3 separate regions of the Homo sapiens genome follow, and regions 2 and 3 are each linked to region 1. Evidence: fine-mapped expression QTL. A gene starts in region 1. Each other region holds a variant in brackets. All regions are shown on one strand. Distances are between the middles of the regions.

Region 1 (2,754 bases):
TGGGATGGGCCTATACCCTAGTTATTTTTTTTTATTTTTATTTTTTGAGACAGAGTCTCACTCTGTTGCCCAGGCTGGACTGCAGTGGCACAATCTCCGCTCACTGCAACCTCCAGCTCCCAGGTTTAACCATGTCTGGCTAATTTTTGTATTTTTAGTAGAGATGGGGTTTTGCCATGTTGGCCATGCTGGTCTTGAACTCCTGGCCTCAAATGATCCGCCTGCTTCAGCCTCCCAAAGTGCTGAGATTACAGGCATGAGCCACCGCGCCTGGCCTTGAATATTTCTACAATGATGGAATGTACCTGTTAATACAGTGTGTCTTATCAAACACATGCTGCCAAGGAGAGCACTGGGTATTCTTCCAGTGTAAAGTAGATTCCTAGGCAGTCTAGGGAGTCAGGAAAGGCTTCCCTGAGGATGAGATGGAAGAGGGACTGAGGGCCCAAAGTGGCTGAAAGACAGAGAGCCAATAGGAGGAAGTCCAGTTACAGAGGGCCAGGATTTGGGTTTTTAACCATTTAATGGTTATAAACTGAGACTAACATACTCAGATTTAGACTTTACAAAGATCAGCAAGTATAATGGATTGGAAGGATCAAGAATTAATCCCAGCCTGACCAACACAACCTCCACTTCCTCCTCCCAGCAGTTTGGAATCCTTACCTTTTGCAATAGTATACGTTCATTCATTTATTATGCATTCGATAATATTTACTGAGAGCCTACTATGTGCCAAACATTATCCTAGAGGTTAAGAGGGGACAAGAGCAAAGGGTCAGCAGTCTAGGGGTGAGATGGAGTCAAAAGGACGGCAGGTCAGCTGGAATGATGAGAACAGCAGTGGAGAGCCTTTAAAAGTGCCTTGGACTGGACCGATTACCTTCTAAATGCCGGCGCCCGGAAAAATCACTAACACCCTTTGGACTTACGTATTTCCATCTTTGTAAAATGGGAACCTACCTCGCAAGGGATGTTGCAACAATCGAAGAAAACTATGCACAATGCTTGACATCCAGTGGGTCCTCAGTAAATAGCCTAAGAAGGAAGCAAGGTTATGGTTACTTCTGGAAGAGGTGGCTTGGGGGCTGCGACAGGTGCAGCGATTGCCTGATGATAACATCTAGAAAAGCCCTTGCTGGGCAGAGGGGCAGCCGACGACCCCCGCCACTCAGCGAGTCTCCAGGTTTCCCGGAAACGCTAGCTCCAGTGACTTCTCAGATGCCCCTATGGGACCCCACCCAGGGCTGCCGCCGCCACCACCTACTGCAGCCGAAGCGGATGCACCTCGCGACTTTCCCCGCAGCCGCTGCCGGGGCCACAGCGAGGTCATGACGCCCGTGACGCATACGCAGCCAGCACGCACGCGCGCGGCGTGGCCCGCCCCCCCCTCCCACCCCGGAGGCGGGGCCGTGAGTCCCGGGCTCCGCCCCGGAGCGTCGGGCCCCTCCCCGGGCCCCGCCTCCAGCTCGCCTAGGACCGCTTGGAGCCGGCAGCTCGCCTGCCAAACCCGGCTGGGAACGCCTGGCAGCTTTTAGGAGGGGGCGGGCCCGGGGGTGGTGGCCCCAGGAGCGGTTGCCGCGGGGACCGGGCAGTGACGCGGCCCAAGGGCGGAAGTGAGAAAGTTGTCTGCGTCTCGAGGCGAGTTGGCGGAGCTGTGCGCGCGGCGGGGCGATGGGGGGCTCGGGCAGTCGCCTGTCCAAGGAGCTGCTGGCCGAGTACCAGGTGCGCGGGACGCCTGGCCCTGGGGAGCTCGCGTGCGGGCCTCTTCTCGGGAGCAGGGTCCGGGAGCTGGCTGCGGGGCGGCCGCGGCCTCCCAGCGGTCCGCTAATCCCCGCTCTGGCTTTGCCTTCCAGGACTTGACGTTCCTGACGAAGCAGGAGATCCTCCTGTAAGTGCTGCCTTGAACCCTGCCTCCGACCCCGGGATCCTCTAGAGACAGCTTCGGGGGCGCTGTCCCGAGGGAGGGGCGGGGGCTGGCCTGAGGTCTGCAGAGGAGCGGGAGCTGGAGGCCGGGAGACCTAGCCCGGGCTGCGCCCTCCTCCCGGCACGCCCTCCCCGCCCTCGCCTGAGGCCCCAGCGTGGCACCGCGGAGCCACCTTACAGCCTCCAGGAAAAGTTAGGCGCTCTTTGACCCTGGGCTCCACTAGCTTCAGCACTGCCGAACTTCCTGCCCCAGTCCGGCAGGGGCCGACCTTGCCCAGTGGCTAAACCACAGAAGCCTTGGGGAGCCCGGCTCCTTCTCCCAACTTTACCTGAATAATACAGTAACCGTTATCGCTTTCTGAGCACTCACCATGTGCCAGGGACTGTGCTAAATGGTTGCCTGCGTTACCTAATTTAATCTTTAGGAGAGAGGTACTGGACAATGAAACAGGTTCAGAAAGGTTTGGTAACTGCTTAAGACAACACTCTGAGTAAGTAGATTTGAACTTGGGCTGGAAGCCCTTTTGCCGGATTTATGCAGGCCAGGTTCCTGTGGCAAAGATAAGCTCATGGGAAGGAGGTGGAGGCCGAGGAGGACAGTTCAGTGTGGTTGCTAAAAAGGAGGCTTTGAGGGTAAGAGATCCCTGGAGTGAAGGTGAGAATGAGATTTTTGGTTTTGCTCTTTTCTCCGTTTTTTTTTTTTTGAGACAGCGTCTCGCTCTGTCGCCCAGGCTGGAGTGCTGGGGCACGATCTTGGCTCACTGCAGGCTCTGCCTCCGGGTTCAAGTGATTCTCCTGCCTCCGGGTTCAAGTGATTCTCCTGCCTCA
Region 2 (2,754 bases), 58 kb before region 1:
GGCTCTCTCCTCTTCCTCTGAGTGGTGTCCCGTACCTTCCCCAGGGAGAGCCATGAGGCTCAACTGGGCCTGTAGTTGCTGGTTCTGCTGGCTGGTAGCTTCCAGGTGCTCCTGAGATGCCAGGAAAGAGGGTGAGAAGGCACAGAGGTTGCCAGGTTGTCCCTCTTGGGGCCCCGTCCTCAGCAACTCCCTCCCCTGGGTCTCCTGCAACTTTTGGCGGGCCATCTTAGCCACTGCTTTGCCCTGAGCTTCCTGCTGCTGCAGCTGGTCCAATGAGCCGGGTCTGCAGCAGTAACTGCCTGTGCAGCGCCTCCTTCTCAGAGGTCAGCTGCTGATAGGCTGCCACCTGCTGCTGATAAGTGGCCACGTACTGCTTCAGGTGACCCAGGTACTGGCCTCGCTGCTGCTGCAGACTCTGAGCCTCTTGGCTCTTCAGCTCCACCTGCTGGAAGTCCCTGGGCATGAGGGCAGCTGGTGGCTGGCTTCCAGATTCCTGGCCCATTAATAGGGTAGTGAGGGCACTGTGGGGCTCTGTGGCCTGCCCAGGCCCCTGGCCCCTTGCTCCAGGCCTAAGAGACTGCCTCCCTTGCCTAGAACCCCATGCCTCCTTCCCCAGCCTCAAATCTCACGTTCTTCTTCCAGCCATTTAAACTGTAGGCCACAGACTGGTGGAAAAGCAGAGGGAGCCAACCACCATCTGCTAAGTGTGCTACATGCCTAATGTTTCCACGTATTATCTCATTTAACCCTCGGCACCTCTGCGAAGAAAAAGCTCACTTCCTTTTGAAGTTAAAGAAACAGAGACTTAGAGATGGAAAGTAGTTGAATGATGACCAGTGGAACCGAGGCCGGAATCCAGTTTGAATCTAAGGAGTCGTTTTGGTTTTTTTCATATTTTGTTTTGGGACAGTGTCACTCTGTGTCCCAGGCTGGAGTGCAGTGGTGCGATCTCAGCTCACTGCAACCTCCACCTCCTGGGCTCAAGTGATTCTCATGTCTCAGCCTCCTGAGTAGCTGGGATTACAGGCATGCACCACCATGCCCGGCTAATTTTTTTTTTTTTTTTTTTTTGTAATTTTGTAGAGATAAGGTTTTGCCATTTTGGCCAGGCTGGTCTCAAACTCCTGATCTCAAGTGATTCTCCTGCCTCAGCCTCCCAAAATGCTGGGATTACAAGTGTGAGCCACTGCACCTGGTATAAGGAGCCTCTTATGCCACTGTCTCTTCCTCTGTGATTGGAGGGCTCCATGCCTCTAGCTGGGATGATGATGTCCAGACCTGGGAGGAGCCAGGGCTACCCACCTCTAAAAGTCAGAGGGCAGGAAGCAAGAAACAGTCATAGGACTGCCCTGGAGGGTGCTGGGGTCACCTGCCCCCAGGCTGCAGCTGCCTCTGGCCTGGCACCTCCCCTCCCCAGAGGCTGGTGCCCG[C/T]CTCCCAGACCTTCTTGGACGGGTCGGAGGTTACCGTCCCCTTCAGCTAGCCCAGCTTCTCCTGCAGCTCCTTTACTTGCTGCTCCAACTGCAGTGCGCTCTTGTTCTCGTTCTGGACAGAGAGAAGCAATCAGCAGCCACCCGCTGCAACTGGAGACCCCAGAACTTGGTGTCTGCCTCCCATAGCACTGGGAAGGGTGGAGGGAGGTTAGAAAAATCATCCCCTCTCTCCCACAGCCATCAGAGCAGGGCTCCGGCTCACAGGTGCCTTAGAAGTACCATTTCATGTGAGGGCTACACTGCCCCATTTTACAGGTGGGGAAACAAAGGCCTGGCGGGCTAGGGAGGAGGGCTGGGGTTGGGGGGCCCAGTCCAGTGTGCCTCAGGGGTGGTATGGACTCCGGCAACGGTCTTGTTGTCGGAGGGGATCTGTGGCTGGGTTGGGGGCCATGACCTGGTGCGTTTTACCTTTTTCCTGGCTGCGGCCCATTTGCCCTGTCGTGTTTTTTCTGACATCATGGGGTGTGGAGGGAGGCGGGGTTGGGCCACATCAGTGAAATCCCAGTGAGCACTGATGAATGCCTCCAGTCACCTACCAGGCAGCTGTGCAACTGAGCCAGAAGAGGCATAACCGGGGCCCCACTAGAATGCAGAATAGGGGCGTGGCCTTAATGCTCCAAGCCCATTGGTCAATGAGAAATATGAAAGGGAAAGGAGGCGTGGCCAGGTAGCACCGTGTCCAGAAGGACCTGTGGTTCACAAGGAAAGCTGCCCATGCAACCGCTGTACCCGACCACTCAGAGAGAGGGAGGGGCCGCCCACTCAGAGGGGAGGGGCCGGCTTTTGCTTTAAAACCTTTAAAACTGTAAAAAATAAACTTTAAAAAATGTATGTGTGTATTCTTTATATATATGTGTGTCTGTGTGTGTGTATCTACGTGTTCCTCCAGAGCTGTCTCCATTATCCAGCTTCTATGCAAGGTCTATAATTTTGGCCTATATTTTTCATCTTCAAATGGAGTACAATAATTACCAGTATTACCTTAACTGAGATACAGATCCTATAAAAATGGAAAATCCATAGCATGCTTGATGATTAATGAAGCAGGCTATAGTATCCAACATTCCAATAAGATAAAATAATCACAATGATTTCTCTTTTTTTGGAAAAACGTTTCTTTTATTCTCCTACATTATTAAGATTTTTTTTTTAAAACAAGAAACATGTCAAATATCTTGAAAAACACAAAGCTTTTGGGCTGGGTGCGGTGGCTTACGCCTGTAATCCCAGCACTTCGGGAGGCCAAGGCAGGTGGATCACCTGA
Region 3 (2,754 bases), 29 kb before region 1:
GGGCATCTCATGCTTCCCTCCACTGTCTTTCCCACACTGTATTGTAATTGGTATGGTATGTCTTTTTGTCCATGTTCCTATTACCTCTTGAGTGCTGGGACTGTATTTCTGCCATTTCTATCACCAGGGTCTAGTGTACAGAAAGGATTAAATAGGCCTGGTGCGGTGGCTTACACCTGTAATCCTAGCACTTTGGGAGACTGATTCAGGTGGATCAGGAGTTCAAGACCAGCCTGGGCTACGTGGCAAAAACAAAATATACAAAAGTTAGCCGAGCATGGTGGTGTGTGCCTATAGTCCCAGCTACTCAGGAGGCTGAGTCAGGAGAATTACTTGAGCCCGTGAGTGGAGTTTGCAGTGAAGTGAGATCAAGCCATTGTACTTCAGCCTTGGCGACAGAGCGTGACCTTGTCTCAAAAAAAAAGGAGTAAATAAATGGGTACCCTAACTTCCCCATTCTTACACTGGTGGAAGTGCCATATTATATTTTAGGGGCATCCAAGCTCTATGCTTGCTAGTGGGATTTACATATGTCAAAATGACCAAAGCTAGTTTTGCATACTTACGGCTAGTGAGCCTGATTCTGGCACTGGAAAAATAGCACCTCCCAGCCTTCTTCATTGACAATGAACAGGAGTTGATGGCTGCCGGCTCTCCTGTCCAGTTGAAGTTCTTGGGCTGCAGATGGTACCGGGGAACATGTGGGATTGCAGCATTCATGCTTGGCAGTGCCCCTAAGATCCTGGGGATTGATTCATGGGGCAGAACTGGATGCAGGAAATGAGGAGCGCCCTGCTCTGTGGCAGCCCCTCTTAGGAGCACCAGTAGGACCAGACTCATAGATTTCAGTTCTTGACTGCCCAGCCTGTCCTAGCAAAATCTAGGCTAGAGGAGAAGAGCAGCCCCTTACCACATTTTTATGTAAGTTTGGATGGAGCGTTGGAAGAAGGAGGTAACTGAAAAAAATCTCTTCTAGGCCGCGGCCACTATTTAACCAGATACTCCTTTGGGGTTCAACAAAAACAGAAGACCCAACAGGTTTGCTACCAGCCCAGGGAATAGTGAAAGCGGCAGCTCTTTTGTTGGCCCAAATCTGTTTACTTATCTCCCATTAGAGCTGGGGCACTGGCAGTGCTAGGGAGAAAATTATACAGAAGCCACTGAGGGTGGTGGGCTTGTTATTTGTCAGTCATGAGTGTGGGGTTATTTTGGGACAGGAATATAGAGAGCAAGTTTCCTGTAAATGAGAAGGTTTGGAGCTGCAACTTGCTGGATGTCATATCTAAAACAAAGGAGCTTGGGAACAGA[C/T]GCAAAAGGAATCAACAGACCCTCTCCCAAGGTCCAGCTAGCGCACTCTGCTTTCCCAGGCTCCACTGACAGATACCATCACACAAGCCTCCTTTGTTGAGACCAACACCATGTCCTGGAATGACAGCCCTTGTTCCCTTTTCCTCTGGGAGACTTCACAGGGACCCTCACCCGACTCTCATGAAGTTTTTTCTGGCCCTGGGGGCCAGGGTGCTGCAGACGGGTGAGCTGCTCTACAATACCCAGGCTTCGGATGAGAGTCTCCCTTTGTAGCAGGGCCTTCATCCGCTCCAGCTCCTCCTCTTCCACAATTTCTTGAGGCCTCATGGTGTCCAGCTGTCCCGGCAGCAGCTACAAGGTACATGAGAGATAAATGCAGGATCTCCAAGGATAAGTCCCAAACCATCACCCAGGATGGCTACAGGCCTCCTGCCCACTCTACCCTCATCCCTTCCCTGACCCAGGAAGGTTCCTTTTGCTGTCCATTCTCTCACTTCATCTTCCAAAGGATCGGATTCAATTTACTGATTAGGAACTCCTCTCTCTCTTGTGCATGGGGAGGAGAAGACAGCAGAGATTCATTCCCCTATCTAGTTGTCCCAACCCATTTTCCTGTGGAAAGATAAGAGCTACAAAACCCCTGGCACCTCTTTCTCCCAGTTGCGGTTCCTGTAAGCCAAGTGGGTGGAAAGGCTCTGGAGCCCTGCCCTGGGTCGGCTTTTCTCCCCAGCTGATTCACCCTGGTTCTGGTCCCTGGCCTTTTGCCTCTTAGTGCCCGAGGTCTCCTGCTGTTCCTGCTTAAGGCGGATCTCCTCTAGTTGCTGCCTGACAAGACACAGCAGCTTCAGACAGTAGAGAAATGGTGTTGGGGAGAAGAGGGGTGAGGAAAAATGGGGATGAGGAAAGAGCAGGAAATTACAATCTGTTCTTAGGACTGATGCGAGAGCAATGAGAGGGGAAGATAGGAAACCTACTAAACTGAAAAGAGTCACTAAGAGTCTGATAGGATTTATAGCTCCATTCCTCTTTGCTGGTGTCTGGCTTCCTCTTTCCCTGCTGGGAAGCAATGCAGCTTCAGGACTTGTCCCCACCTAGGTGTGCAGAGGAGAATGTCGGTCAAAGTACCTGGCACACTCCTCTCTGGCCTTGGAAGCAGCAGTCTCTTGGAAGAGGGAGCCATTGTGCTTGAAGAAGCGGGCATACTTCTCTGTGTCAGGCCCAGGGTAGATCCGCCGGTATTTTCCCAGGTGAGAATCCTCATATCGTTCCTGGTCCAGCATTGCCACATGGGATGACTCAGTTTTTTCTTTCCTGTGGAAAGCAAGCTCAGTGAGTCAAGAGTAGGGCTGTGGGAATGTTCAGTAGGGAAAGGAAGACTGACTAAGGTTTGGAGACCCTCCTGCTGGCTTCTTGACCTCCTGGGCCCCTGCCCAAGTAGGGAAAGCT

Evidence for each region. PIP is the estimated chance that this variant, and not a neighbour inherited with it, causes the effect.
Region 2: its variant is the best candidate, but not a certain one, in a credible set for the expression of CIB1 in hypothalamus (GTEx, PIP 0.79).
Region 3: its variant is the best candidate, but not a certain one, in a credible set for the expression of CIB1 in adrenal gland (GTEx, PIP 0.76).

What each region holds. Positions count from the first base shown.
Region 1 is chr15:90,232,806-90,235,559 of GRCh38, reverse strand. It overlaps CIB1 (calcium and integrin binding 1), which reads left to right and starts at 1,619. Exons shown (of 7, transcript NM_006384.4): 1 at 1,619-1,725; 2 at 1,857-1,891. The coding sequence starts at 1,675. It overlaps GDPGP1 (GDP-D-glucose phosphorylase 1), which reads right to left and starts at 1,351. Exons shown (of 4, transcript NM_001013657.3): 1 at 1,268-1,351; 2 at 964-1,038. RefSeq lists silencers at 1,217-1,656, 1,677-2,126.
Region 2 is chr15:90,291,189-90,293,942 of GRCh38, reverse strand. It overlaps the pseudogene GOLGA2P8 and the pseudogene RN7SL736P. Among named protein-coding and RNA genes, the nearest start is that of NGRN, 27 kb to the right of the region's middle. RefSeq lists enhancers at 1-226, 227-727, 571-730. The variant C/T (reference allele first, on the strand shown) is at 1,431.
Region 3 is chr15:90,261,871-90,264,624 of GRCh38, reverse strand. It overlaps TTLL13 (tubulin tyrosine ligase like 13), which reads right to left. Exons shown (of 15, transcript NM_001396017.1): 11 at 2,434-2,619; 12 at 1,956-2,133; 13 at 1,480-1,659; 14 at 567-678. It also overlaps a transcript of CIB1 not described here. Among named protein-coding and RNA genes, the nearest start is that of NGRN, 2.4 kb to the left of the region's middle. The variant C/T (reference allele first, on the strand shown) is at 1,309.